7 separate regions of the Homo sapiens genome follow, and regions 2, 3, 4, 5, 6 and 7 are each reported to be linked to region 1. Evidence: microRNA targets listed by miRTarBase, many of them from high-throughput screens and not tested one by one. Region 1 holds a microRNA gene; each other region holds the end of a gene's coding sequence. Distances are from middle to middle.

Region 1 (4,053 bases):
GCTCCACGGAGGGACATGATGCCTTTTCCCACCTCCCCTAACACTCCCTGGCCTCCGGGCCTGGGACTCACACTGTCCTGCGGCTGCCAGAATTCAGTAACAGCTTCATTTGTTCATTGCATTATTTTTCCAGTTGCCCCCTAGTTATGACAAGGGGTAACTATTTTTTTCCATTTTTGGTGGAGATAAAAAGTTTCCTTCTCAGCTGTTGATACGGTGATGAATATGAGGGGGAGCCCACAGATGGTTGTAAGTTCACCCTCAAGTTCTAGTTTTTACAATGGATCCATGGTATTTATTAAGTTCATATTCATAAAGAAGTTAATTAAAACAAAAGGAGAGCCACCCACGGAGATAAGAGTAGGTCACAAACCAATGAATATGACTGATCCAGTTACAAGAAAATAAAGCTGATTGATGTAAATGAAAATACTAATTGGATAGTGCAGGTGACAGCAGCGAGGAAGCTGTGAAGGTGTCTGCTCACGCAGCAGTTGGGAAGGTTGGCCTGAGGCTTTCAAAACCCAGAACGGTTTAGGATCTCAGTCACCACCTCTGGGAACCACCATCATCACTGTTCTTTTAATGAGGGGATCTCCAGTCCCCGCCCTACCTTTCGGCCTCCCCCGCGTGTTGAGGGGTGGGGGCTGGACAGTGACTCTGGGGCTGGGATGTGACTTCGTGCTGGGCCCCCCCAGGTGAAGCTGTTCATGCAGGACCTCTCTGCCATGCTGGCCGGCCTGGGTCAGGCTGAGCCTGCAGCCCCTGCCTCCTAGCCCTGACACAGGTGAGCAGCGGGAGAGGGAACCCCTGAGAGACCCTGAGATAGGAGGGCCCACATTTCCAATGGGGTGTGGACTGAGTGGCTCTTCCTGAATCCGTTTCCTCATTGGGAAGATGGGAGGGCTGTGCCTGTTCAGAGTGCTGTGGGCCTGCCATGAGGGGCACATAGCAAGCACTCCATAAATGCAGGCCCTGATGAGGAGGTGATGGGAAGGTCAAGGGGCTATGTGTGGGGCAACTGCCTCTAAAATGAGATCAGACCAGGCCCTCCCTGCCAGGGTGGTTGGGGCATGAAAAAAAACTCTTTGTCAGGTCTCAGAACAGGGTCCATGCTAGATGAGAGATCACCAAGGCCCCCTCCACTATGGACTCTGCCAGGTGAGGGGCCCAGCCTGAGAATCCAGCTGCTGGGGCTGCCCTTGACCTTCTCAGAACCTCAAACAGGGGGTGGGTGGCAAGAAGACAGAGGACAGGCCAGGTTCTGACCTCCAGGTGTGGAGGGGCCGCGTTAACCTCTTCATAGCCAGAGGGGAGCAGCTGTGTCCTTGCCCCCTGGGCTGGGCATCCTGTTCCCCTCCCCCAGCCCACTCCCAGCTGCAACCATGTCCAGTGGGAGGAAGGGGGACCAACTCCCGCCTCTGGCACCTGGTTTGTGCTCTGAGCTTCACTTTCCTCATCGCTAAATGGACAAGGCAGCAGAACTCACCCTCAGGAGACCCGCAACTCCTCTGCCACGTTAGCTGGGATTTTAGTACCTGGGTCTCTCCATTCCAGTTCCCCAAGTAGACCGCACTCCTGGCCACCAGCAGTGCTCAATAAAGATTTATTACATTAAAAATTCCATTGCCAAACCCTGAGGCACTCAGGGCTCTGACCGGTGCAGCCATGACCTCTGAACCCAGAACACATGGAAGCAGCAGCAGCTGAGTTGCCAACTCAAGTCTTGGCCTGCCTGGCTTTGCTGGCGAACTCCTGCACACCCTTCAAGGCCCTGTTCAAATGTCTCTGTCTTAGGCTGACGCAGCTGCTGCCCTTCTGTGGCCATACAGTGCTCCTTTTCACAGATGATGGCTCCTGCAGGGAGTGCCCCCAGTGCCCAGCACAGGGCCAGGCACACAGTGGTGCACGGGAACGTCTGCTGATGCCCACCCTAAGGCCAATCAAGGAGCCACGGGGCTGGGTCCTGGTCCTCACATCCTCTTCCGCATCTTGCCCTTCTTGGAGCGGGCACCCCGGCCGAAGGCGCCCTGCTGCAGCTCCTGGACGCGGCGGCGGTTGCGGGCAGAGAGCTGCTTGAGGCCACCACGCTGCAGGAAGTGCAGCTTCTGGGCCCGGCGCCGCTGCTTCAGGATCTGCTGCTTGGTCTTGAGTTCCGGGCGGACTCGGCCTGCAGGGGTGCCTGGGGCGTGGGGCCGGGATGCACCTGCTGGGACAGGGATTCAGGGAGCTCAGCTGTTGGGATCACTCCCAAGATCCCCTCCTCCCAGAAGCTTGCAGACTCCTCCCCTGCCCCTACTCCTGTTCTGTGCTTATTGCTGTGGCCCAGTGTCTGTACACAGTAGGTGGCTAATAAAGTTTTAGGCAGCCTCATGGAGTGGTCAATAACACGGGGCCAGAACCGCTGGGGTTCAAATCCCAGCTGTGACCTCTTGGACCGTGGGCAAGAAGTTAACGGCTCTGTGCCTCAGTTTCCCCATCTATGAATTATAAATCACAGCACCTCCCTCATGGGTGAAGAGTAAATGCATTTCCATGGTGTAAAGTGGTCAGAATTTCAAGGCCTGTCCCATAGTGGGAGCCTTTTGGGCATGACTGTTACTATTAAAAATTCTCCAACCAAGGAGTGTATGTCTCCACAGCACACCTACGGCACGCCAGGCTCTGAGGCCCCCCATAGTAACCGATACAGACCTCAGCCTCTGTCTCCATGGACACCATGCTCTAGGCTTGTTAGATGAAAAAAGAGTGTAGATGAACCTTCCTTTAGGTGGGAGAGGAATCAAAGAAGGCCAGAGAGGGAGAGGGACTTATCTGAGATCACACAGCAAAGCAGCAGCAGCAGCAGAGGTCAGCGACCCTGCCCCAGCCCCACAGGTGGGCATCAGGTAGTCCATTCTTCTAGTTCTCCGGGAGGCAAGCACCACCCTCCCTGGCTCCCACTAAGCCCTGTGTCCTCCTCCTCCTCTTCCCCATTCATAACAGCAGCCTCCCCAGGGCTCCTAGAGGGATGACCATTAAGGTGGTCCCAGCTGTCTCCAATGGAGCCAGGGTGCCTCGCAGGACCTATCACCTCCAATGAGGACAGCAAAGGAAGAACAGCTGCTTTTTCCCAAAGCCCACAGGTCGCCCCCGTCTCCCCAGCCCCTGCACGCCCACTGCACGGCAATGCTCGCAGCAGAAGCTGCTGTTTCACCTAGGTAAAAACAGGCTGAGAAGTGAGGTGTGGGTGGTCCCCACCCAGCCATGCTGACAAGGAGACACTCCCACAGATGGGAGAGCTGGAGAGGGAGGAGCCACAGAGAACAGGCCCAGGCAAATGCACGCAGGCTCACAGAGACACCCAGGGGAGGCAGTGACCAGCCCCAGGAGGTGGAGGGACACAAGCAGGGGCTAAGGCCATCTGAGAGAGACCCAAGACATGGTCCCAAACTCCCCTCTCCCCAGGGAAGACTCCAGGTGGGAGCCTTGGGCAGCTGGGTGACCCAGGTTCAGTCATAGCCCTCATAAGGCACCTGTTTCCTGGCCTGTAAAATGGGTATTCGCAGTCACCTTGCCTCCCAGGTCATGTGTGGCCTTCCAGGACAGAGCCTGCCTGCACCCAGCAAGCGGGAGCCCCTCCCTGATAACAGCCCTTAAGCACAGGCTCTGGCAGACAGAGCCGGCTTCAAATCCACCTTAGCTTGTTACTGGCTGAGGGACCCAGGCCAGATCAAAGAGGTCCAAGTCCTCAGATGACCAAATGTACCACTTGCCAACCCACATTTCAAGGAAGTATCTTCCTCAACATCCCCTGTGATCGCCTCCTCCCAGAACCAAAGCTGCTTCTGACTGCGTCTTTGGTGACATGAACTTCCCCACAGCATTGCTAAAAAGAACGTCACTCCTAAGGATGCCACAGGGAATCAATTCATGCTCACTGTCAGGTCGAACCACATGCAAATGCCATTTTTGCAGGTGAAAATGGCCTGCATTTGCACAAGGTTCCACCTCCCGGGTTCTCTAGGATTTTACACAATCGGCTTAATTAGGTGAACAGGGCATCTACCAGAA
Region 2 (4,066 bases), not on the chromosome of region 1:
TGTCCTGAGGTCTAAATACGAATATATGTAAAGTGGTGACAATGGCAGTCCGTCCAATTACTATGTATATTCACATTGTTATGATGTCGCTGTCACCCCTCCCTGGCCCCCAGCCCTCTGCCTTTGAAGAGAAGGCCATTGAGAAGGTGGATGACCTGCTGGAGAGTTACATGGGTATCAGGGACACGGAGCTGGGTGAGTGAGGGCTGCCTGGGGGAGGGGGCATCTAGGTCTGCTGGGGGCCGAATCCACCCTGAGCCCCTTGGTCCCTGGTGTCATTTGTGCCTCCGTTCTGACCCCTCCCCCAATAGCGGCCACCATGGTGGAGCTGGGAAAGGACAAAAGGAACCCGGATGAGCTGGCCGAGGCCCTGGACGAACGGCTGGGTGACTTTGCCTTCCCTGACGAGTTCGTCTTTGACGTCTGGGGCGCCATTGGGGACGCCAAGGTCGGCCGCTACTAGGACTGCCCCCGGACCCTGCGATGATGACCCGGGCGCAACCTGGTGGGGGCCCCCAGCAGGGACACTGACGTCAGGACCCGAGCCTCCAGCCTGAGCCTAGCTCAGCAGCCCAAGGACGATGGTGAGGGGAGGTGGGGCCAGGCCCCCTGCCCCGCTCCAATCGGTACCATCCCCTCCCTGGTTCCCAGTCTGGCCGGGGTCCCCGGCCCCCCTGTGCCCTGTTCCCCACCTACCTCAGCTGGGTCAGGCACAGGGAGGGGAGGGATCAGCCAAATTGGGCGGCCACCCCCGCCTCCACCACTTTCCACCATCAGCTGCCAAACTGGTCCCTCTGTCTCCCTGGGGCCTTGGGTTCTGTTTGGGGGTCATGACCTTCCTAGTTTCCTGACGCAGGGAATACAGGGGAGAGGGTTGTCCTTCCCCCCAGCAAATGCAATAATGCCCTCACCCCTCCTGAGAGGAGCCCCCTCCCTGTGGAGCCTGTTACCTCCGCATTTGACACGAGTCTGCTGTGAACCCCGCAACCTCCTCCCCACCTCCCATCTCTCCTTCCAGGCCCATCCCTGGCCCAGAGCAGGAGGGAGGGAGGGACGATGGCGGTGGGTTTTTGTATCTGAATTTGCTGTCTTGAACATAAAGAATCTATCTGCTGTTGGACCTGTGTGGCTTCGGGGTGGGAGAGGGGGAAGATTGGGGCTGAGAAAGAATTCAGCAGCTGAAATCCATCTTCCGCAGGCTCCAAATTGAATTAGGAGCTGGCACCAAGCCACCTGCCCCCTCCCACTGTTCCTTCTGGCTGCAGGCCACCAGGCTTCCAGGCAGGGCCAGAGCTTCCTGGACTACTGAGGGTTCAAATCCTGCCCCCTCTCCCACAAGGCCTCCTACCCCCTGGAGCTTCACAAGGCTGCTGTCTGCAGCTGGTGACAACCCCCGGACCGTGGGGAGCACCAGGGCATTGAAACCTGGCTTGGAAATAGAAAGATGGAACCTCAGGCCTGCCAGAGCCCCACCCCTACACCGGGAGGTTGGGGGCAGGCGTGAGGCAGCCCCCACCCCACCCGGCCCAATGCTGGACACGCAGGCGTCCATGGGGCACCCTGCTTTGTCCTAGACATAAACCCAGCATACTTGTTTTGACAACCCACTCATCTTCGAGGATTGAGGGTGATCAGGGAAAGGCGGGGTGGGACCCTGGCCAGACCTGGAGGGAAGGGAAGGGATTGAAGCAAGGGGCGCTGGGCCAGAAGGCCCCACAGGAATGCTTGGGGGTGAGCCGAGAGGCTGTGGGGAAGTCCGAGGCCAGCTTGCAATCCTCGTTCCAAAAGGCGGGCGGGCACTGGGCCACCAGGAAGAGGGGAAGGGGGAAAAGGGGAAGACCCTGGGGGCTGGGTGTTGGTGGACAGACCCGGGTGGAGTCGGGGAGCCGCAGTCCTGGTGACTCAGGGCATCCCCGGGCACCTGTGGGCTCCTCAGGTGTCTGTGCTGGGAGCCGCTTGCGGTGGTGAAGGGGTGTGGCTATGTGTGTCTCGGGTGTTGGGTAGCACTGTGAGTCTATCAAGAGTGTTGATGGCTCGTGACGCAATGAGGGAGGGCTGTGTCGTGGGTAAGGGATGTGATAACCGGCTCTGTGTTCCAGGGCAATTGCAGGTGTAACTGGCAGTGTCTGGTGGTGGGGAGTGCAACGGAGTGACTGTGTCTTGGGGTGTCCCGGGGTGTGGGGGTGTGTGTCTTAGGGTGCTGTTTCTGGGGCAAGGAGGGGTGCTTGGCTAGGCCTTGGGGTGTTCAGGGGTGTCAGGGTATGTCTCGGGGTGTTGCTGTTTCCTGGGTGGGGGTGCTGGCTAGGTCTAGGGGTCTCTAGGGGTGCAGGTGTGTGTGTCTCAGGGCGTTGCTGTTTCTGGGTGAGGGTGGGGGTGGCCAGCTAGGTCTCTGGTGTCCAGCGGCGGGGGGTGTCACTTCTTGTGCCTTGGGTGTACGGAGTGTGCTGGTGGGGCCTGTCTGGGATTGTTGAGGGGTCATTGAAAGTCAAACAGAGTGTGGTCAGGGGCAGTTTTGGCAATAAGGAGTGTGTGTGCGTGTGTGTATCTCTCGGGGTGCCAAGTGAGACCCTATTTCCCAGCACTAAGGAGGGTGGTTCGGGTGATCATCTCAGAGGGCTGCATTTTGGGGTGTTGGGAGGGGCTGGAATTGAGGCAGTAACTCTGGGTGCGTCCCGGCGCTGGGGGTAAGACCCTGAGTTCAGGGATGTGGCGGCAGCAACCTGGCTGTGCTGAGATGGGGACAGGATGAAACTGAGTGGTAAGTGACAGGATTGTATGTCTTAGGGTGTGAGGCTGTGCCAGTGTGACCCTACTTCTCAGGGCAGGAGGCGAGTCTTTGTGTCTTAGGACGTGTGTCACAGGTGTCACTCAGCCCATCTTAAAGGAGCCAGTCACTGGGGAGAGTCCCCAGGTCGCCAGGCCTCCTGGTTCCCCTGCCCCCTTTCAGCCTCCTCCCAGGATATGACTCGCTGTGGCCCTAGCCGGGGCTTAAGCCCCTGTATAAATAGGCGGATCCCCTGGCCAGGCTGGGCCTGACCCAAGCTGGTCTACCCGAGGCCCTGCCCACCAGCACCCACCCCGACATCCACGAAGGCTTTGGCAGGGCAGGGGGGGCATTGCTGGCCCCACAGAATTGGAGTTAGCCTCTCTAGCTCCAAAGCCCCAGGGAGGGGGGCAGTGGCACCCCCTGCAGCTGCCCCAGCCCGCCCCAGACGACGCTCACATTTTCCAGTGTTTAGATTTTATCCGCTTTATTAATGAGGCAAGAGGCCCGATCCTGGGGGGGAAGGGGGCTGCTCCCGCCCTGCTGGGAGGAGGGGGTCACATGGGGCCAGACCAACTCCAGGGAGCCTCACTCCTCGTGGAGGGAGCCGCTGGGGCCCAGAGTGGCCCCCGCCCATTGCCAGGAGCAGAGAGGGGGGTCTCTGCCACTCCAGGCCCCCAGCGGGCGTGCGCGGGGTGGAGCGGCCCCTGGAGGCCAGCAAGGGCGGCGGGAGGAGCTGAGGAGCCGCCCCAGGAAGAGGGAGGGAGGAAGCGGCTTGCCGGAGAGCCAGGGCGCAGTGGGCGGCAGGGCTGAGCGGCCGGTGATGGGGACCCCACATCCCAGGCAGTGCCGGGTAAGGGGGTTGCACATGAGGGTCCCTGATTGGGGAGGAGGAGGGCATGAAGGGGTGGGGCCATGGCCACCTGCTGTCCGTCCTGTGTCCCCGGGCTCTTCTCCCTGATCTGTGCGTCCCTGTCTTACCGTCTGTCCATCCTCCCTTCCCATCTGGCCTGGTGGGCAGTTCCGCCCTTTCAGCCCTCACCACCAGGATATCAAAGAGTGGATGGTCGTGGGGCCGCCTCCAGGCCTCTGGGGCAGGGATATGGAGTGGAACCGTGGGCACCCAGGGTGAGGCAGAGGTGATCGGGGTAGGGCCTGGCGAGAGACCGCAGTGGAGCAGAGGCAGGTCCATGGGGCAGGGGCAGAGATGGGTCCATGGCACAGATGTGGCTGTGCCATGTGGGGTCAGAGATGGGTCCATGGGGGACAGGGACATGGCCGTGGGGAGAGATGTGCCCGTGG
Region 3 (4,063 bases), not on the chromosome of region 1:
AGGCTGGTCAAGTGGCAGGGTCATGAGGGAGACATCGATAAGGGTGCTCCTTATGCTCCCTGCTCTGGAATCCACCAGCGGGCTATCTGCGTTTATGGGGCTGGGGACTTGAATTGGATGCTTCAAAACCATCACCTGTTGGCCAACAAGTTTGACCCAAAGGTAGATGATAATGCTCTTCAGTGCTTAGAAGAATACCTACGTTATAAGGCCATCTATGGGACTGAACTTTGAGACACACTATGAGAGCGTTGCTACCTGTGGGGCAAGAGCATGTACAAACATGCTCAGAACTTGCTGGGACAGTGTGGGTGGGAGACCAGGGCTTTGCAATTCGTGGCATCCTTTAGGATAAGAGGGCTGCTATTAGAGTGTGGGTAAGTAGATCTTTTGCCTTGCAAATTGCTGCCTGGGTGAATGCTGCTTGTTCTCTCACCCCTAACCCTAGTAGTTCCTCCACTAACTTTCTCACTAAGTGAGAATGAGAACTGCTGTGATAGGGAGAGTGAAGGAGGGATATGTGGTAGAGCACTTGATTTCAGTTGAATGCCTGCTGGTAGCTTTTCCATTCTGTGGAGCTGCCGTTCCTAATAATTCCAGGTTTGGTAGCGTGGAGGAGAACTTTGATGGAAAGAGAACCTTCCCTTCTGTACTGTTAACTTAAAAATAAATAGCTCCTGATTCAAAGTATTACCTCTACTTTTTGCCTAGTATGCCAGAAATAATATAAATATAAACAGATAAAGTGTGTGAGACTTTTTCTCATAACTATTCATGACATTTAAAATCCCTAGGGGCTGGCAAGAGAGTTCTCATTATTCTGAAATGGTCCTGACAAGCTGCATGAATAGCAATTTTTTTTTTGAGACAGAGTCTTGCTCTGTCACCCAGGCTGGACTGCAGTAGTGCAATCTCAGTTCACTGCAACCTCCGCCTCCCAGGTTCAAGCGATACTCCCACCTCAGCCTCCTGAGTAGCTGGGACTACAGGCATGCAGCACCATGTCTGGCTAATTTTTGTATTTTTAGTAGAGGCCGGGTTTCACCATATTCGCCAGGCTGGTCTTGAACTCCTGACCTTGTGATCTGCCCGCCTCGGCCTTCCGAAATGCTGGGATTACAGGTGGGAACTACTGCGCCTGGCCTACAAATAGCAAATTCTAACGAAGACAGGGGAACAGGGATGGTTCTTCCATTGTTAAAAGCCATCCTCATTTTGTTTATATTGCCAGGTTTGTGATTTTTCTGTAAAGGAAAAGGCAGGGTGATTTAACCAGTTTGACCACCTTTCCTGTACTCTTACAGGAAAATCGCAGCACTAATTCTAATTTTGTCCACTTTACAGCCAAAGCTTAGCTAATGTTCCATAAAGGAGATAATAGCCAATCAGGTAAGGTAATGTGTAATTCATTATTCAAAGTGGAACATGTTTTTGTAGGGGGAGAGTCTGCACTATTAATAATTGTATTGAGAAATAAAAATAAACTAGGACTATTCAGTTAAACCAGGATGTCTTATTATTCCATGTTTAGGCCTCTTGAGTCAAAACTCTTTTTTTTTTTTTTTTTTTTTTTTTTTTTGGAGACAGGTTCTCACTCTGTTGCCCAGGCTGGAGTGCAGTGGCATGATCTTGGCTCACTGAAGCCTCTGCCTCCCAGGTTCAAGTGATTCTCCCCCCAAACCTTGCAAGTAGCTGGGATTACAGATGTGAGCCACCATGCCCAGCTGATTTTTGTGTATTTTTAGTAAAGATGGGGTTTCACCATGTTGGCCAGGTTGGTCTCAAACTCCTGGCCTCAAGTGATCCACCTGCCCCAGCCTCCCAAAGTGCTGGGATTACAGGTGTGAGCCACCATGCCTGGTCCCCTCTTGAGTCAAAACTCTTATTTCAGAATGCGAATGGAAGGATCGCTATTAGTGATTCTGCAGATTACACATTTCCTTGCGGGGAGACAATAAGGTATGTGTAAATACATATATGTGTGTGTATGTATACACACATACAGCACGCTACCTCCCAAGTGTTACCTAGTGAAACAGTTTCCTTTCCGAAGCTCCAGAGATGGTTGTTGGCTAAGTTATACTCTTCTGTGATGGGCAAGGGATACTATAAAAACATAGGCAGTGCCCTTTGAATATAGTACAGCTCATCTTCTGCATACGATATGCCCTGGAAAGGTGATTTATATGCAAGTTAATTGGTGTAATCTGAAGGATGCTCCCATTAATACGTCATGATGTCATTAATATGTTTCTTCCTTTCTGATTTTTGTTTTTTTTTTTTTTTTTGAGACAGAGTCTCACTCTGTCACCCAGGTTGGAGTGCAACGAATGGCGCAATCTTGGCTCATTACAACCTCCGCCTCCTGGGTCCAAGCGATTCTCCTGCCTCAGCCTCCTGAGTAACTGGGATTACAGGTGTGTGCCACCTTGCCTGGCTAATTTTTTTGTATTTTTTTAGTAGAAACAGGGTTTCACCATGTTGGTCAGGCTGGTCTGAACTCCTGACCTCAAGTGATCCACTTGCCTTGGCTTCCCAAAGTGCTGGGATTACAGGCGTGAGCTACCGCACCCAGCCCTTTCTGAGTGTTGTCATTCAATTCATCAAGTTTTCTGTCATGATCAACTTTCTCTATGCAAACCCTGTAACTCTGACAGTTATCACTGTGTCTGACACAGTGAATTTTTTATTTATAAGGTAGTTACTTTTGGCCAGGTGTGGTGGCTGACGCCTGTAATCCCAGCACTTTGGGAGGCCAAGGTAGGCAGATCACTTGAGGTCAGGAGTTCAAGATCAGCCTGGCCAACATGGTGAATCCCCATCTCTACTAAAAATATAAAAATTAGCCAGACATGGTGGTGGGTACCTGTAATCCCAGCTACTTGGGAGGCTGAGGCAGGAGAATCGCTTGAACATGGGAGGCAGAGGTTGCAGTGAGCTGAGATCGTACCACTGCACTCCAGCCTGGGCGATAGAGCCAGACTGAGTCTCAAAAAAAAAAAAAAAGTTACCTTTTTTTGGTAAGGTTGTACTTCTTAGATAATGGTCATTGTCACTACCAACTTGCCTGCATTGTAATAGAGTCCTATTCACTTTGCTCCCAACCCCACTACGGAGATGACTGATGACTAGTTGTATACACAGTGGGTGTGCCCTGAGAGGTCTGTTGCCAGCAGTGGTGATCGATCACGGCCTCCCCCTGCTGGCTGATGTGATGGTCCTTGGTCCTCCTCTGAAGGAGGTAGAAGGGGCACACGGCCACCGTGGGAAGTAGGCAGAAAAGCCTCCCTGGGTGCAGATTCTCTGAGAAAAGAACTTTGGCCTCATAGTTAACTTACTCCAAAAGCTTTCATGTGAAATAATTTATAATTTTTTATATAAATAAAAAGATTAAAATGTGAACTTGTCATTTTTTTGGGGATAAGTTACTGAAATTTTTCAACCATTGAAATTTTCTCTAGAAATATATTCAGGTGCGTAGGAAGTGCTGTTTATTTAATAACACAGGGTCTTCATATCAGAGGGGTCGAATTTAGCCCTCATTTGTTTAGTGTATTATAGAAATCATACACCAACACATCTGCTGATTTTTCTCTTCCCTCTGAGTCATATCTGTGTCTTTAACCGTTCTCTGGTAAGGAAAAATCTCACAAATTAATTGAACAACTGTGTTTGTATTACCTCTCAGGGTTTGGATTTCCTCCTTATTTTTTATCTGTGGGCTATTGGTAAGCATTGTTTTAATAACTGCATTTTTGTTGTACACTCTGCTCATTGTAGTTTTTGTCTTTCTCTTGGTTGAGTGGAAAAAATGTTTTTTTTTTTTTTTTTGGAAACGGGGGACTCACTCTGTTGCCCGGGCTGGAGTGCAGTGCTGCAGTGATGGCTCACCACAGCCTCGACCTCCTGGGCTCAAGCAATCCTTCCACCTCGGCCACCTGAGTAGCTGGAACTGCAGGCGTGCTCAGGGAGTCTGAGGCTGCAGTGAACTATGATCATTGTGCCACTGCATTCCAGCTTCAGTGACAGAGTGAGACCCTGTCTCAAAAAGCAAAAACAAAAA
Region 4 (4,066 bases), not on the chromosome of region 1:
GGATTGCTTGAGGCCAGGAGTTCCAGACCAGCCTGGGCAACAAACAAGACCCTGTCTCTACCAAAAAAAAAAAAAAAAAAAAAAAAAAAAAAAAAAAAAAAAAATTCCTAACCACTGTTTGGCCTTAATAATGCCCAGCAGTGGTTGAGCATTAATAATAGTTGGGCCTTCATAATAGTCCTGTTGGGCCTTAATAATAGTCCTGTCTTTACATATTGGACTTTTAAAAAAGAATAAACATTAAGATAATTCAAGAACTTGGGAAAGATTTCCTTGTCATCAAATGTTTAAACAGTTCCTTGAATGCTCGGGGCCACTGACCGTTGCTAATTGGTTTATCATCATCAATCCTGCAGTTTATGGTCACTCCCCTATACTAAGCTGAATCATATCCTCTCCAAACTCACGTCCACTGGAACCTATGAACTAGCTTCCTTATTTAAAAGGGTTTCTTGTGCTACACGGGGAGCAGATGGACTTTGAGCCTTACTGACAATATCACTTAGGAATAATATAAGATCGCTTTTGGCTTTAGTGACATTTCTTGACCTTTGCTTCAAAGGGCTGGGATAGGCTACACGAGTTCAGGACTGGCTCGCTGGTTATTGCAATGCGTACAGAAGTTGCATCTTAATCCTCTACCATAAACATGGCCCTTTGGTGAGTCAGAGAACAGCTTCCTGGAAGGGTAAGACAGTGGTAGTTTCTGACACACCTGTCATTTTGATCCTCCTGGAACGATTTGCTGTCATTCCAGAAGGTATGCATCCCCATCACAGAAGAAAGAAAAAAACATTTCTGATGCCCCCTCTTCTGGCTGGATAGAAGCCCAAGACTCTGACCCAGGTCAGGGCCTGGGAACTGAGACTGGAGTACTGCAGTTAGTGGGGCTGGAGGGAACACCAAAGGAGGCCTGAAGTCTGAGTCCCAGGAAAAGGTAGGCTTGGGAAGCTCATAGCATCCACAGCATTATGTTTAAGGCCTGGGTGGAAGCAAAGGTTCACATCAGGCAGGATGGCAGACTGGGGAGAACTCTCTTGCAGAGAGAACTCTCCACACACAGAAGCCCTGTGGAAGAGTCTAGGGGTGAGATGGGGGGCTAGCTGCCAACAGACAGCTTGGGCAGCCCTTAGAGGATATGACATGGTTCAGCACCAGAACCTAGGAATGATCTTAACAGACAAGGGGGTCCCAGGGTGCCTAAAATTGGGACCAAAGCAAAAGGCAGCCAGATGCAGTGGCTCACATCTGTGATCCCAGCACTCTGGGAGGCAGAGGTGGGAGGATCAGTTGAGCCCAGGAATTCAACACCTGCATAGGCAACATGGCGAAATTCTGTCTCTACAAAAAAATACAAAAAGTTAGCCAGTGTGGTGGTGGACGCCTGTAGTCCAAGCTACTCTGGAGGCTGAGGTGGAAGGATCACTTGAAACCAGGAGGTTGAGGCTGCAGTGAGCCATGATTGCACCACTGCACTCCAGCCTGGGCAACAGAGTGCCCTGTCTTAAAAAAAAAAAAGGAAAAGAAAAAGAAAAGAAAAGCTCTGAAGAGGCTGTCTGGGAGACAGAAGGTATTGGGTGCAAATACAGTCTGAGCCTCGTTGGTGGCAATCACAGTCTTTAATCATTAATTGTCATATTTCTGATTTGTTAGCAAGTGCCAGCTTGTAGGCTGGTTGAAGTACAGAACTCAGAGGAAAAAAGAAATTAAATTTTAGCTTTCTGGAGAGCAGCCCCTCTCTGGCACCATCAAACACTTCTTTGTTTCCCTTCAACTTGGAACTCTTCAAACATCAGGGGTTGTGAGGGTTTGGCCATTCTTTTATCTTGGGTCCATGTGAGTGACAGAAATGGTGCGGCCTGGGAAAGATCTCCCTCCTTTACATTTTCTCTTCTCCCTCCTCCTCCTTATTCTAAAACTGTGCCTCCAACAGAGGGGCAGGGGCTCTTGTAGAGAGATCCCTGGCCCAGGACAGGAGATGCCAAATCTAATTTATCTCACTGAGGGCCTTTGAGAAAAACGCTTCAGGGCCAGGCTCAGTGGCTCATGCCTATATAATCCCAGTACTTTGAGAAGCTGAGGCGGCAGATCACTTGAGGCCAGGAGTTCGAGACCAGTCTCGTCAACATGGCGAAACCCTGTCTCTACAAAAAAAAAAAAAAAAAAAAAAAATTAGCCAGACATGGTGGCCCACATCTGTAGTCCCAGCTACTTGAGAGGCTGAGGCATGAGAATAGCTTGAACCTGGAAGGCAGAGGTTTCAGTGAGCCGAGATTGTGTCACTGCATTCCAGTCTGGGTGACACAGTGAGACTTTGTCTCAAAAAAAAGAAAAGAAAAAAAGAGGCCGGACGCGGTGGCTCACGCCTGTAATCCCAGCACTTTGGGAGGCAGAGGCAGGCGGATCACGAGGTCAGGAGATCGAGACCATCCTGGCTAACACGGTGAAACCCTGTCTCTACTAAAAATACAAAAAATTAGCCAGGCGTGCTGGCAGGCGCCTGTAGTCCCAGCTACTTGGGAGGGTGAGGCAGGAGAATGGTGTCAACCTGGGAGGCGGAGGTTGCAGTGAGCCGAGATTGCGCCACTGCACTCCAGCCTGGGCGACAGTGAGAGACTCCGTCTCAAAAAAAAAAAAGAAAAAGAAAAACGCTTCACTCTTCCAAACCTCAATTTTCTTATGTGTGAAATGGTAAGAATGTGGGTTTATAATTACCTGTGTGTATGCTCATCATACATGACCCCTAAGGCCTTAGGACTCGAGACATTTTATGACCTCTCCCAATAGGGGCAGAGGTGAGCACCCCTGGTGAAAAGTTAAGACTCAGTGAGTATAAATACGCCAAGAAGAGCTGTGGCTTCTTTCACTGGTGTCCTCAGAAAGGCTGTGAGCAGTGTTGGTGGCATACCTGTCACAGCATCTAGCAAAGCACCTGAATTCTAGTATGAATTCAAATACATCTTTTGATGGAAGGAAAGAAGAAGAGGGGAAGGACGGGAGGGAGGGATGGAGTGGAGGGAAAAATTCTGTTGACATCCCATGATAAGGGTGCAGAGGGGCGCTGCACGTCTCTCCTTTCTGCAATCAGCTCTCCCACCCTGGTCCCTCTTCCTTCAAGGGACCCATGAGGACCTCTATTCTTCTCCGTACCTGAGGTTCTCTCAACAGAAAGAAGTTGCAAGTGGGACCTCCTCATGCCACCCTCATCCCCAATAGGAACAATTAGGCCAGGCTTTGATGTCACTGAGGAGGGGACCAGCACGCCTCTGAGGACAGTAGGAAAAACCTAGGCAGGTGTTAGAGCAGGGAGTGGGGTCCCCAGGAGCTGAGGGCCCCAGGATCGACATGATTCTGAAGGTGATTGTCATGGGTGCAGGGAGCAGGCGGCGACACCGTCTAGGCTTCCTGGGGGCCGTCCTGGGCCTCGGCGGCCACGGTGCTGGACTGGAGCAGGAAGTCTTTGTAGGCCATCTCGGCTTCCTCCTTGGATGACTAAGGGGCAAGAGGAGAGGCATCAGTGTTGGGGGCACTGGCTCAGTGGGTGGAGTCAGGGGAGGGGAGGTGCTTAATGTCCTGAATTCGTGATCTTGGTCCAAGCAACACAAGCCTTTGGGGCCCACTGTTCTCATCCCAGCCCCCATGCTCACCAAGAAGGACGCATTTTGAGAAATGGAAAGTTGCAGCCTCTAAAAATATCTTCTTCTGTCTCACTACCTCCTTCTGACACACGGAGTGGAACCGCCTCTGTTGCCCGGGCCTGTCCCCGGAAGCTGCCCACACAGTCCACGGGCAAGGTGGCCTAGGCTGGGGTCAACCACGGTGGTGTATGTTTTTCTTTCTCCACCAGCCCAGACAGGTAGCTTTTTGGCACCACAAAGTTAAAGGGGAAGGCTGTCCCAGGAATAACTCGTTCTAACTTTGCTAAATGCCAGAGATGTTTCAAGAAAAAGTAGATATGATAAAAACAACAACAACAACAACAAAAACTCTCACCTCGGGATTAAAGGCATGAGATGTTATTTTTCTTGGTCCCCTGAGTCCTAGGGCAGATTGAGGGGATGGTATA
Region 5 (4,066 bases), not on the chromosome of region 1:
TATTCTTTGTTTTTTTTTTTTTTTGAGACAGGGTCTTGCTCTGTTGCCCTGCTGTTGGTACATAGCTGACTTCAGCCTCAACCTCCCAGGCTCAAGAGATCTTTCTGCCTCAGCTTCCAGAGTAGCTGGTACCACGGGCACACACCACCATGCCCAGCTAGTTTTTAAAATTTTTTTGTGGAGACAGGGTCTCATTATCTTGCTTAGGTTGGTCTTCAACTCCTGGGCTTAAGCGATCCTCCCAACTAGGCCTCCCAAAGTGTTGGGATTACAGGCACGAGTCACCTCACCCAGCTATTATTACACTAGATTGCAGTTGTTAGTCATTGTGCCATGCCCCAGTTCATGTTCCATCAGCATGTCATTGAGACACTTTTCTACGTTTATGATGTTGTTACTCGTATCTGTAGTTCTGTGTTTTATTTACTGAGAATTTTTCCTTTCGGCCAGAGTGGCCTAGCTCCTTAACCGTTGAGGTATAGTGACCTTACAGTTGGTGGTCATTGCCTGTAGAGTTCATGTCCTCAGTACAGAAAATCAAAACTGACATTTTTTTCCCCTTTATTTCAGGATTGAATCCAGTGATCTTCCACTTCTGGCTGCTGTAGCAAGCACTCACTCTCCATATGTTGCACAAATACTCCTTTAATATACCTAAAAATTGTTAGAAATTGGTGGGAAAATAGGTAGAAACCAAGGAAGCAGACACAACATGCATTTATGGAGATTCTTTTTCCCTTTTAGACTTCCATCTGAATGAGTCAGTCACCAGGGTATTCTGCATAGCATTGTATATTCTGTGTATGTCAGATGGCTTTTTCTTTTTGACTGGACTTTTGGGTGGTGGTAGATTTTTAAACAAATGAAATTAAAGCAACAATAATTTTGAAGCATTTGAAAAAGCCAAAGTGTACGGTAGAAATTTCTACAAAATGAATATTATCAAGAGTTTCATGTGATCACTGCAGTGTTGTCACAGCTCATAAATAGCAACAGTGTCTCATGATTTAATGGCTCAGAAATAGTTATTCATTAGTTTTTAATTTTTAATTTCTAAGGTACAGAGATCTATAAAACCTTGATTATTTGTTAGTTTTGCAATTCAAAACAGCTAATGTCTGGTTATTTCTCAAAGTAAGTATTTTAAACAGCCTGTTAATTATAAGAAACTCAGAATAATGAGTGTAAATGTGTTATGTTATCCACCCAAGTGTACATATGTACCTATTTTTTTTTAAAAAGCAGAAATAGAAATACAAGACTGGTAAACATGCCTTTAAAAATATATATATTTTCAACTAGTATTGTCTATAATGCTGAAATATTACTTATTGGTGATTTTTCTGTTTCACACACTCTAAAATATAAGTAAAGCCAACCTTTTTTTTAAGGCTGAGATTCCCAAAATGAGAATACTACTTTATACCATTTGTTTATAAGTATGAACTGTTCTTATAAATATTAATATTTACATATTCACTAATTTAACATAAATGAAAATTAGGATTAAAAATTGCACCAAAGCATCGGCAAAAACAATACTATATTCTTTAAAAGTGCTCAGGTAGCCAAGGCCCTTGCTTTTGGTATCAACCCTCATGAACCCATAGGAGCTGAATATTTGTTTCACTGCTTAATAATCCTCAATTTACACTATTCATAACTCTTAAAATTATTCTCTTTTTTTCTAAGAGTCCCTCCCTTCCAAAAGTGTATTTTTTTCAAAGATTTTCACTTCTCAATTGTTGCCTTTGTACATACTATAGAGTGTTGCTTGTAAGAAAGGCTAATATGGAACCAAACTCTTGTAAGTAATGTAAATAGAAAGGTGGGTGGATAAAGTTTTCAATACTTTCTACTACCTCAGTTTACTTGAGTACTACATTATAGTTTATTCTTTGCTTATCTGGTCTAAGAGACTTTTAATGCTAGTAGTAAAGTTGGTTTCTGCTTTCATTGACTATTTTCATCATAATTTCATCATTGATTAAAAAAAGAAAACCACTTGTTTATTCAGTTATTAAATATATTTACTATATAACACATCCATTCTTGCTGTTTAAATTTTCAATAGTTAATGGAAAGTTGTCTTTGACCTTGAATTTACAGCATTGGGTCACATTTTGCCTTGCTGTGTATGTATTCAAGAGACTTCCAACTAGACAAAGAAAAAATTGTTGTTTTAATGGAATGTAAACCTGAAATTGGTGTGTCTGCAATCTGTTTGGCCCATGACCTTTTACCTAGTCCCAGTTATTACCTGAGTCTCCCATGGATGACTTGCTGCCAAGGAGTGTTTGTGGATATATTTTCTTTGGCTTAATTTTCTTATTCTGTGCATTAACAAAATTATCCAGTTGTCTGATTTTGGAATTCTATGAGTCAATCTTTTTGGCAGAATTCAGAATATTAAAAAGTTCATACATTTGCGGGCCATTGTACCTTTTTTTTTTTTTTTTTTTTTTTGACGGAGTTTCACTCTTGTTACCCAGGCTGGAGTGCAATGGTGCGATCTCAGCTCACTGCAACCTCCGCCTCCCAGTTCAAGTGATTCTCCTGCCTCAGCCCCCAAGTAGCTGGGATTACAAGTGTGCGCCACCACACCCAGCTAATTTTTTATTTTTAGTAGAGATGAGATTTCACCATGTGTTGGTCAGGCTGGTCTTGAACTCCTGAACTCAAGTGATCCACCTGCCTCGACCTCCCAAAGTACTGGGATTACAGGCGTGAGCCACTGTGCCCAGCCTTGTACTTTTTTTTTTTTTTATTGTAGCTCTGTATAGCACTTGGATAATGTCTGGGTGTCTCCTTAACCATCAAACTGTTCTTTATTTAAAATGTTTAATTACCGTTTAGAAATTCTAGTCCTCAATAAGTGGGTGGCTCATGCTATTGTTGTTCCTAAAGCTAAGCTTTGCTGGGAAGGAAATGACCTATAGTTTCTTAAAGAATCATTAATCCTTATAGGATTCCTGAGTTACTGTTTTGTTCCTCCCCACTGCTTCCCATTCCTGAGTTTTGTAATTCCTAATCCTTCTATAATTTCTATTACCTTCACCATAGTCATTCTTTCCTTACGCAAAGCCCAAGGAATGAGCTGCTGCTACTTTAAAGTGTGGTCATTATGATGAATGTGAAAAGAGTTTTGGCTTGTTCTAAATAATTTTTACAAGTTATGGTACAGACAGTTGTTACATATCAAAAAAAACCTGTTTATTGAAACAGGAAATAAAAAAGGGATCTTTTACATTATAGAATTAAAACTAATTTTTTCTTGTATATAAACTAATTGGTTTGATTTTAAATATTTCTGGCTTTTATTAATATGTCTTAATTTTGAGTTTGAAAATGTTAAGTGCAATAAAAACATACTAGTACAGATTTTGTTTTGTTCCAATTGGCATACTCTGGGGATGATCACTTAAAAAAACAGATTTTACATAATGCCTACTTCTGGTAGATGTCTTATGAGATTGTTCTGCTTTTTCTAAGTTACTTAGATGTTGGATATGTACATAGCTGTTTCTTGTTCTGTATACATTTCTCAAATGTACACTTGTATTATAATAACCTCCCAGTTCTAGGGGATATTTGTGCAATAAATACACATGTCAACTTGATGGATGGTGTTGGTCTTTCTTTCATATATTAAGGTATACGTAACATGGACTGATGTCTGTCCAGACATCAGATGACAGAAGTTATGGACTGATATAACTTCTGTCAAACTTAGAAGTTTGACACTTCTAAGGATGTGACCTTTCCTCATTGGTATTTCCATATTGGTAATTTAATAGAATCTACTTCATGAGGTGGTTGTGAGAATCAAGTGAAATAATGAATGTTAAGGATTTAGCTCAGTACTGGCATACTCCAAGTGCTAAATAATTTTTGGCTGCTACTTTTACCAGATAATCTGTCCAGCCTTCCTCTTGTGGCCCCCCACCTATTGTTTTGCGAATTTTTAGCGTATGTTCTTATGAATAAAAACATAGTAACAGAAAATATAAGAGTATCTTCTTACAGCGAGCAACAAATTGAAAATTTCTTTAAATGCTTTTATGAA
Region 6 (4,066 bases), 3.9 Mb from region 1:
TCACGGCCAACGTGCCTTACCAGACGGTAATGCGAAACGCCGACCTGGACAGCTTCACTACTCACAGGAGGTTAGTGGTGGGGCCGGGCGAGTAAGAGACCATCTTAGTTTGACTGATGTATAGAACCCCACCCCCCCCGCCGTGACACATTGCACCCTATGGGCTATACCCTCAGGCAGGGCCCTGCCTTTCTGCGAATTGGAAACATAAACGTGGATGCTGACCTGTACTGAGCACCCAGCATCTGATGCAGGACAGCCCCGTGGGGCGAGTCCACGCTGTCGGCTGTACAGAGAGGGAGGGCAAGCCGTATGCTGAGGGGCCTGCTGTGGTTAGAATCCTGTCAGGGGCAAGGCCCGCCCTCTTGAGTCCTTGCCCTGTGACACTCACTGCGCCCATCGGACTTGTGCACCCCCACGTTGACCGCTAAGCCGGGGACTGTGAGTATCTGACGCTGTGTGCCCAGAGAACGCGTTTGTGAAGCTGAACCTCTATCTGGTCTCAGGCGAACGCCTCCTGCACAGACAGAAGCGGCTGGGGTGAGGGCCAGCGAGGCAGCCCTGACCTGTCACCATCTTTGTGCTCTTTCTAGACACCGGGGGCTGATCCGCGCCTATGAGTTTGCGGTGGACCAGCTGGCCTTCCAGAGCCCTCTCCCTGTCTGCCGTTCATCCTGTGACGCCATGGCCACTCACTACTACGACCTCGCACTGGCCTTTCCCTATAACCATGTTTAGGGATGTGCCTCAGTTGGGAGCAAGGAGAAAAATGGGAAGAACCAGTTTTATCCATCTTAAAACGCCAGGCACCTCTTCACAGGTGGTAAACATTTAGGGGAAGAAAGCAGCCCAGGGTGCCATGCCTGACAGCACGCATCTCCCTGACCCCTGCACTTCCCCCAGCGCCTGGGGCAAGCTGGCGTGTGCCAGGGCTCGAGTCCCACGTGCTGCCAACTCAAACATAGCCTCCTTCCCCACCCAGCTGGCCACCCTGGCCTCAGCTCCCTCAGGACGCCTCAGGGATCTCGCTGCGCGGTCCTATACGGTCCCTGCTTAGCCAGCTTCTGTGTGTCCGCCCTCCCAGCTCCAGCCCTGCAGGCCGTCTTTTCCGTCTCCAGCCCCTTACCTCTTTTCCTCCGAGGGCCTTTGGATGTGCTTGTTCCTGGCCTCCAAGGCAATAACCTCCATGTCCTTTTCCCTGTATTTACTTGGGGTGCTCTTCTGTGACACTTGCCACCACCACCTTCCAGTAGCAAGCTGGTAGAGCTGTACTTTTTCTTCACAGCTTTTACCATGGTTTATAATTATATACTTATACAGTTTAGTCATCAATGACTATTTTGCTTACTATTGTGTCTATGATATGTGATACAAAGCAAATATTTTCTAAATATTCATTGACTAAACAGCCATCAAGATGAAACAGGACAGGAGAGAACTGTTCAGTGTGATACAGAGCTGCCATTTCCAAAGTATTCTGGAAGCAAGCCATTGCCTTACTCTTGATTTTCAACAGTTCTAAACAGCAACAGCATCCACCTAATATACCTTCAGAATATCAAAGCGAAAACTGATAGAACTACAAAGAGAAATAAAATCCATTCTCACGGCAGGCAAATCAGTGAGAAAAATGTAAAGATCTGGAGGATTTACTTAGTATCGCTAACAAGCTGGATCCAGTAGATGCGTATGGAATTTCAAATACACATAGACGATGCACAAAAAACCACCCTGTACGAAGGCCACAAAGAACAGCTCAGATGCACAAAGATTCACACCATACAGGCCAAATTATAGAATCCCCCAACCCCAAGACACTGCACCCTATGGGCTATACCCTCAGGCAGGGCCCTGCTTTTCTAGGAATTGACTCCAATGCAGAATAGTGAGAAATCAACAAAAAGCAAAATAAGACAATTCCAGACACTCCTGAATTTACTTGGATTTAAAGAGGTTAATAAAAACAAACTATAAACTCTCTAGACTGGGCTGACAGTAAAAGCACAGAATACAAAACCCAGGGGATGGGGCTGGGAGGGGCTGTGAGGGGCTGGCACCTCAGCTCAGAAAAGGTAGCAGCAATCCCAAAGCAGCAGAAGGCAGGGGTTAAATCAGGATAAAAACAGACATCAGTGGAATCGAAAACCAATAGTTAGTTAATATAAAGCCAGAAGGTTTTGTTTTTTTTCAGGTGGGGTCTCGCTCTGTCACCTAGACTAGACTGGAGTGCAATGGCCTGATCTCGGCTCACTGCAACCTCTGCCTCCCGAGTTCAAGCAATTCTCCTGCCTCAGCCTCCTGAGTAGCTGGGATTACAGGCGTCCGCTACCACAACTGGCTAATTTTTACATTTTTAGTAGAGACGGGGGATATTGCTATGTTGGCCAGGCTGGTCTCAAACTTCTGACCTCAAATGATTGCCTGCCTCAGCCTCCCAAAGTGCTGGGATTACAGGTGTAAGTCACTGTACCCAGCCCAAAAGCAGTTTAAAAAAAAAAAAGACAAAATATACAACTCTTGATAAAACATAAAGGTACAGTGGTCTATGAGGAAGAGAAAAGGTACCTGAGGATGCAGAAGTACCTACCACATGGGAACCGTTTGTCCACACTCATTCCAGAGAAAACCGAGTCCTCTCAGTTGCACACGTGTACGTATCAGTGGGAAGTGCTTGCCATTACTCCAAAGCCTAGAACCTTCACGTCATGAAGGTTCTGGAAGGTTTTTCAGATTGCTTAAGATACGCAGCCATTCCATATTCATCTCCAACTACACAGGGGAACGGAGCAGATAGAGCTGCGACTGGGAAGCGTCACCTTCCCGTCCAGAGCGCTTTCTTTCAGACCCTGCCTACCTGCAGGCAGATGGACCGGAGGGTTTTCTGCTTCCTTTCAACCAGATAACTTCCTAAGTGGAGATGGCCTGTAGGTAGCAAATGCAGGATTTTGTTTACTTTCATCATGTCATGTGGTGGTCAGACTGCTCGCTGGTGGCCTCGCTTTAGAAGGTTTTCATCAAGCCCCGCCCTTTCTCTCTCATAGTCTTAATGCGTCTGGACCACTGGGGAAAATATTTTTCTTTTCAAAAAGCAGCCCCTTCAGTCTGCGTTCCCAGTTCATTTTGCAGGCGCATTCGCCCTTCCTAGTTTGCAGCAATTAAAGATAACGGAGTGTAAAGTCATTAGACCCAGAATTAGAGCAGCCAGCAGCTGGCCCAGTGTAAAAATGTCCCAAGTGTAGCCCCTCCCACCGCAGAGCCTGTTTCTAACGTACCTGCCATTCGTGGAAGTCGCCTGGGTTTTGTAAAGGAGAATTTTTTGGACTCAAGCTGTCATCTTCAAGCACGCCAACTTCAGGCAGTGTTTTCTACTGCAAACCTCCACATCCTGGAATCAATCACACTGACAGGGAAAGGATAAATGCTCCTTTATAAGCCAACATGTATCCAAATTAAGCCCCCTTACCTTTATCCAGACCCTTTCACAAACAAGTTCTGAGTTTTTAGCCAATTGATCCTCTACTTTCCTTCTTTAGTCCCTCTCAGGGACGCCTCCATCCCCGGCTCCCCTAAAGGTAGAAGATACTCGAGCATGCTGCCAGGGGAGCTGGATGGTGAAACACCTGAAGATCTCATATCGCCTCTCAAAACACTGTCGGACTTGCTTTCTGCTTTATGATGTCCGTAGTTGTTCTAATATTAAATGCTTTGAATTTCTTTATTGGTCAAGTTATTTTAACTTGGGCAAGGCATACAGTGATAATCCCCTGGCATGCCACGATTCCAGCTCTTCCCACCCCCTTGAAATCTTACCTCCCACCGTGGTGGTTTTGTAAACCCACAGTCAATTGGATTTGCCCAGAACCTCCCCTACAGGCGCTCCCAGCCCAGGATCCAGGAGACCCGCAACATGGTACAGTAACTCTTCACCAACCGTCATCAATAGGTTTTCTTAGAAACTACAACTTTAAGCAAAATGAGGTATAATGAAACTAATTTTGGCTGGGCAAGGTGGCTCAGGCCTGTAATCCCTGCACTTTGGGAGACCGAGGCAGGCGTATCACCTGAG
Region 7 (4,060 bases), not on the chromosome of region 1:
TTTAGCCCAGATTGTACTGAGGATCTAATTATTGGGTCTGTTATCACATCTGCCACTAGTGTTATACATAAAGACCAGTGTTTTGTGTTTGTGTCTATGAACTTGGACTTATTAGCCATGCTTGTCTGGTGTATCTCTGACTGGAGAATGTTGTGGACGTTTGATAACCGTTTCCTGAAAAATTTTGTCCCTGGCAAAATAGAACCCTTTAAAAGTCATTCTCTGTATCCTCCATGTTATGTGCATGATGTTAGTTTTTGGATAGATCAGAAGAAAGGATTTGATGAACTAGAGTTTCACACTGTGGCCCGAGCAGTGTCTCAGGACACTATTATATCCATACAGTTTCTTAGCCGTTTCCAGCATCCAAAGACTCAACAGGTCAGTCTCTGCTATAGATTGACCTACCAGACCTGTGACAAGGCCCTCACCCAGCAGCAAGTAGCATCAATGCAGTCCCAGTTTAGGAAGGAGATTCAACAACACCTATATGTTATACCTCGGTAGTTTGGTAAATCCTTTTCTGCAGTGTGATCCTTCATTGCGGGGGATGTGGAGGAAAATTACCAACTTGCAACCAGTAGTCCTTTCTGGATTTTTGTTTTTGTAAAATCTTTTACTTTGTGACCATAGCTACTGTTCGTTGATCTTTTTTTTTTTTTTTTTTTGAGACGGAGTCTTGCTCTGCCGCCCAGGCGGGAGTGCAGTGGCAGTGGCATGATATCAGCTCACTATAAGCTCCACCTCCCAGGTTCATGCCATTCTCCTGCCTCAGCCTCCCGAGTAGCTGGGACTACAGGCACCTGCCACCACGCCTGGCTAATTTTTTTTTTTGTATTTTTAGTAGAGACGAGGTTTCACCGTGTTAGCCAGGATGGTCTCAATCTCCCGGCCTCGTGATCTGCCTGCGTCGGCCTCCCAAAGTGCTGGGATTATAGATGTGAGCCACCGCGCCCGGCCTACTGTTAGTTGATCTTAAAGATACCTTGACTCTATTACTGAAACTTATAGATTATAATGTGATTGGTGACATTTGGAGTTGTGTAATATTTTGGTCCCGAGAAGTGACTAAAACAATAAACAAAACAGCATCTTGTACTTTAGATGCTCTATTGTTGAACAGGCAGTAGAACTTAAGTGTCTCATCAAATATAAATATGTTTTCCACACTGTCAATTACTCTTCCCTTAACTTTGTTGTATCATTTCATTAAATCACCTTATGAGAGTAGTTTTTGGCATCAGACTAACATTTATTAGCTTGGGAAATTGCAAATATTCCACATTAATTTTGGTATTATTATTATAATCATCACCATTTTAATTCTGTGGTTGAAAGTCATGGAACGAATAAAGTGTCAGATTTAGGGTTAACATTTGGGTCTGTTTGACTCTAAAGCCCATGTTCTTTCTGCTACTTTCTGTTACTTCTTCCCTAGTCTTTAACAGTAATCGTTCAACTGTGATTAAACTTTGCCTCTCTGGATTTTGGGGCCTTCTGTTGTAAGTATCTCTAAGGGACACTGGAAAATTAGCTTAGGATTCTGCAGAATGCGGTACTCTAATGTGAAGTAATGTATGCTCCTGTTAATAGTTAGGCTCCACATTTGGGATTATATTCTGTGAGAGACATGACTGTCTTATTTATTCTTAGAGAAAAGCACTTGGGAAGGCAAGAATGGAAGTACAGAGACAAATTAGGAGGTTATTGCAGTAATGCAAATGAGATAATGACCTGGACCAAGGTGGTAAAATGTTGGGTTGGATAATATTTGGAAGGACTTGCTGATGAATTAAACATTTGTGTGTGGGTGAGAGAGGTGTGGGGTTAGAGAAATAAAGGAATTAAGCAAGACTACTAGGTTTTTGACCTGAATACCTAGAAGATTGGAAGTGTCATTAACTTGGATGGAAACACTGCCATACGAGTAAGTTTGGGGAGTGGGATAAAGAATCAAGGGATCTCTTACAGACACATCTATTGCTGAGCTCTCCACATTGACTATTTTGCTAACTGATGGCAGGTAATGTGATTTATCCCTTTCTTCTATCCTCAGTAGTGCTTGGTACATGTATAAGGTAGCGTTTGAAAGCTGGATCTTAAAACAAGGGCAGGAATGTGAAGGGAGAATTGTTAGGCAAGTAGGGTGTGCATTTTGGGCAGAGGACATCCATAAACAGAGATATAGATAAGGGAGCATTTGGGGGCACTTTCTAGGCTAGTTAGCTGGGATGTAAAGTGTGCATAGGAAAGTAGTGGGAGATAAGATTGGAACGGTAAGTTGGGGCTGGAGTTCATGAATACCAAATGCTAGAATAAGGAGTTTGTACTTTATTTGGTAGGCAATAGGAAAACATCCGGTGGTTTTTTATTAAGGAAGTGCCCCAGAGTAGTGCTTTGGAAAATTAACTGGTTAATGTTGCACAGGATGAATTTGAGATGAGTGATCCCTGTGGAGATGCTATTGTGTTAGTCCTACGTAGACAGGGAGGGACCTGCATTAGACTTAAATGAAAAGGAGGAGATGGGTATATGAGATACAGTTAGGCTGGGTGTAGTGGCTCACGCCTATAATCCCAGCATTCTGGGAGGCTGAGGTAAGTGGATCACTTGAGGCCAGGAGTTCCAGACCAGCCTGGCCAACATGACGAAACCTAATCTCTACTAAAAATACAAAAATTAGCCAGTGTGGTGGCAATAGTCCCTGCTACTAGGGAGGCTGAGGCAAGACAATCTCTTGAACCTAGGGGGCAGAGGTTGCAGTAAGCTGAGATTGTGCCACTGCACTCTAGCCTGGGTGAGCAAGGAAGACTCTTGTCTCAAAAAAAAAAAAAAAAAAAGAAGAAAAAGAAAAGAAAAAAAGAGTTAAGCTGGATATTTGAACTTGGTAACTAATGACTGCATGTGAGAATTGAGCAATATGATCAATCTCCATTTTCAATACTTGGGAATTTTTAGTAGGAAATCACAACCTTCTGAGACCTTGTCAAGAGATTAGCATTCCCTCTATAAACTTGTCCCAGTTACTGGCATGGAGCTCGACAGGGTAGGATATAGCTCTGTGATTAGAGGAGTGGATAGAGTGTCAGGATTAGATGAATGACCCCCAAGATATGGGGGTCACAGGTATGATATCATCAATGTGCCAGTATAAAAATGATTGTAGGAAATGAAGACCTTTCACCAGATCTGGTGGGAAGAGAGAGCATGGGCTTTCCGGTAAGATAGTCCTGGGCTGGAACATAGCTCCACCATTTACTAGCTCCAAGTTTATTTAGTTTCCTGGTAAATAAAACAAGGTTGTTGTATTAAGTTTAAAAAGGATAAAATATGTAAAATGCCTACCACAATGCCGTAGTAGCGATGACAGTGATGGACATCTGGTTCAATTTGCCGCACAGAATTTCATCAGTCTACACTCTGCCATTACCGGTTTGTCTCTCTGAAGCAGTTTTTAGCTACAGGCTGCCTCTGTCACTCTTACCAAAATACAGAGAAGGCAAGGTGTTAAAAATGACATTTTAAGGACCTTTTAGTAGATAGCTGTGCTGTGATATTTAACTGAATACTTCACATCTCACTATGTAGATTTCTTTAATCACTTTCTATTTGTTTTTTCATTTAAATAGGGGAGCTGAGAGGTGGTTTTTTTTTTTTTTGAGAATGGAGAATGCTGAAAAGTGACGGAAAAGAGGGTTGGAGGGAGGTAGGAATGGCTAGAGTTAGAAGCAGGTGGATGGGACAGCCCTGATGAAGAAACTCCTCAGGTTCTATTTCTTCGCTACTCGGGGATCTGCCCCAATTGGCCCAGTAACGCTATAATTTAGTATTTTCTGCGCATGTCAAGGTCTTTTGTCCCTCGGCGGACACCGTTTGCCAGCCAAAGCTATGTCTGCGCGCTCACCGACTTCATAGGGTGCCGAATTCTTTTTTCCCCAGGCTTGCCATGGCTAGTCGAGGGGCTCGGCAGCGCCTGAAGGGCAGCGGGGCCAGCAGTGGGGATACGGCCCCGGCTGCGGACAAGCTGCGGGAGCTGCTGGGCAGCCGAGAGGCGGGCGGC

Evidence for each region. The annotated mature microRNA hsa-miR-7106-5p reads UGGGAGGAGGGGAUCUUGGG and lies in region 1 at 2,250-2,269, opposite strand. An mRNA with a match to its seed (bases 2 to 7 or 8) in the 3' UTR can be bound and repressed. Matches are read on the target gene's strand: a 7mer-m8 pairs with bases 2 to 8, a 7mer-A1 pairs with bases 2 to 7 and ends in A, and an 8mer does both.
Region 2: miRTarBase lists GIPC1 as a target of hsa-miR-7106-5p. Seed matches in the 3' UTR shown: 7mer-m8 at 990-996 and 7mer-A1 at 999-1,005.
Region 3: the mRNA of GCNT3 is a reported target of hsa-miR-7106-5p. Seed matches in the 3' UTR shown: 7mer-A1 at 934-940, 7mer-A1 at 1,650-1,656, 7mer-A1 at 1,818-1,824 and 7mer-A1 at 2,013-2,019.
Region 4: miRTarBase lists PIGR as a target of hsa-miR-7106-5p. Seed matches in the 3' UTR shown: 7mer-A1 at 2,550-2,556, 7mer-A1 at 2,518-2,524 and 7mer-A1 at 2,384-2,390.
Region 5: the mRNA of FNIP1 is a reported target of hsa-miR-7106-5p. Seed matches in the 3' UTR shown: 7mer-A1 at 2,535-2,541, 7mer-A1 at 2,701-2,707, 7mer-m8 at 2,990-2,996 and 7mer-A1 at 3,571-3,577.
Region 6: miRTarBase lists FBXW8 as a target of hsa-miR-7106-5p. Seed matches in the 3' UTR shown: 7mer-A1 at 1,077-1,083, 7mer-A1 at 2,431-2,437 and 7mer-A1 at 3,242-3,248.
Region 7: the mRNA of FDXACB1 is a reported target of hsa-miR-7106-5p. Seed matches in the 3' UTR shown: 7mer-A1 at 744-750 and 7mer-A1 at 915-921.

What each region holds. Positions count from the first base shown.
Region 1 is chr12:113,156,904-113,160,956 of GRCh38, forward strand. It overlaps MIR7106 (microRNA 7106), which reads right to left and starts at 2,274; the gene lies at 2,210-2,274. CFAP73 (cilia and flagella associated protein 73) reads left to right here. Exons shown (of 8, transcript NM_001144872.3): 7 at 699-787; 8 at 1,798-2,373. The coding sequence ends at 776. DDX54 (DEAD-box helicase 54) reads right to left here. Exons shown (of 20, transcript NM_024072.4): 20 at 270-2,206. The coding sequence ends at 1,974.
Region 2 is chr19:14,474,813-14,478,878 of GRCh38, reverse strand. It overlaps GIPC1 (GIPC PDZ domain containing family member 1), which reads left to right. Exons shown (of 9, transcript NM_005716.4): 8 at 114-195; 9 at 312-1,117. The coding sequence ends at 463. It overlaps PTGER1 (prostaglandin E receptor 1), which reads left to right and starts at 3,525. Exons shown (of 3, transcript NM_000955.3): 1 at 3,525-3,617. RefSeq lists enhancers at 17-532, 2,872-3,540 and a silencer at 1,973-2,455.
Region 3 is chr15:59,619,322-59,623,384 of GRCh38, forward strand. It overlaps GCNT3 (glucosaminyl (N-acetyl) transferase 3, mucin type), which reads left to right. Exons shown (of 3, transcript NM_004751.3): 3 at 1-3,402. The coding sequence ends at 234. Among named protein-coding and RNA genes, the nearest start is that of GCNT3, 9.6 kb to the left of the region's middle.
Region 4 is chr1:206,926,922-206,930,987 of GRCh38, forward strand. PIGR (polymeric immunoglobulin receptor) reads right to left here. Exons shown (of 11, transcript NM_002644.4): 11 at 1,601-3,492. The coding sequence ends at 3,397. Among named protein-coding and RNA genes, the nearest start is that of FCMR, 7.0 kb to the left of the region's middle. RefSeq lists enhancers at 2,681-2,730, 3,201-3,490, 3,417-3,917, 3,541-4,066.
Region 5 is chr5:131,641,268-131,645,333 of GRCh38, reverse strand. FNIP1 (folliculin interacting protein 1) reads left to right here. Exons shown (of 18, transcript NM_133372.3): 18 at 571-3,620. The coding sequence ends at 649. Among named protein-coding and RNA genes, the nearest start is that of RAPGEF6, 8.1 kb to the right of the region's middle.
Region 6 is chr12:117,027,435-117,031,500 of GRCh38, forward strand. It overlaps FBXW8 (F-box and WD repeat domain containing 8), which reads left to right. Exons shown (of 11, transcript NM_153348.3): 10 at 1-70; 11 at 594-3,714. The coding sequence ends at 738. Among named protein-coding and RNA genes, the nearest start is that of TESC, 70 kb to the right of the region's middle.
Region 7 is chr11:111,871,369-111,875,428 of GRCh38, reverse strand. FDXACB1 (ferredoxin-fold anticodon binding domain containing 1) reads left to right here. Exons shown (of 5, transcript NM_138378.3): 5 at 1-1,373. The coding sequence ends at 507. ALG9 (ALG9 alpha-1,2-mannosyltransferase) reads left to right here and starts at 3,848. Exons shown (of 15, transcript NM_024740.2): 1 at 3,848-4,060. The coding sequence starts at 3,947. RefSeq lists a silencer at 3,903-4,060.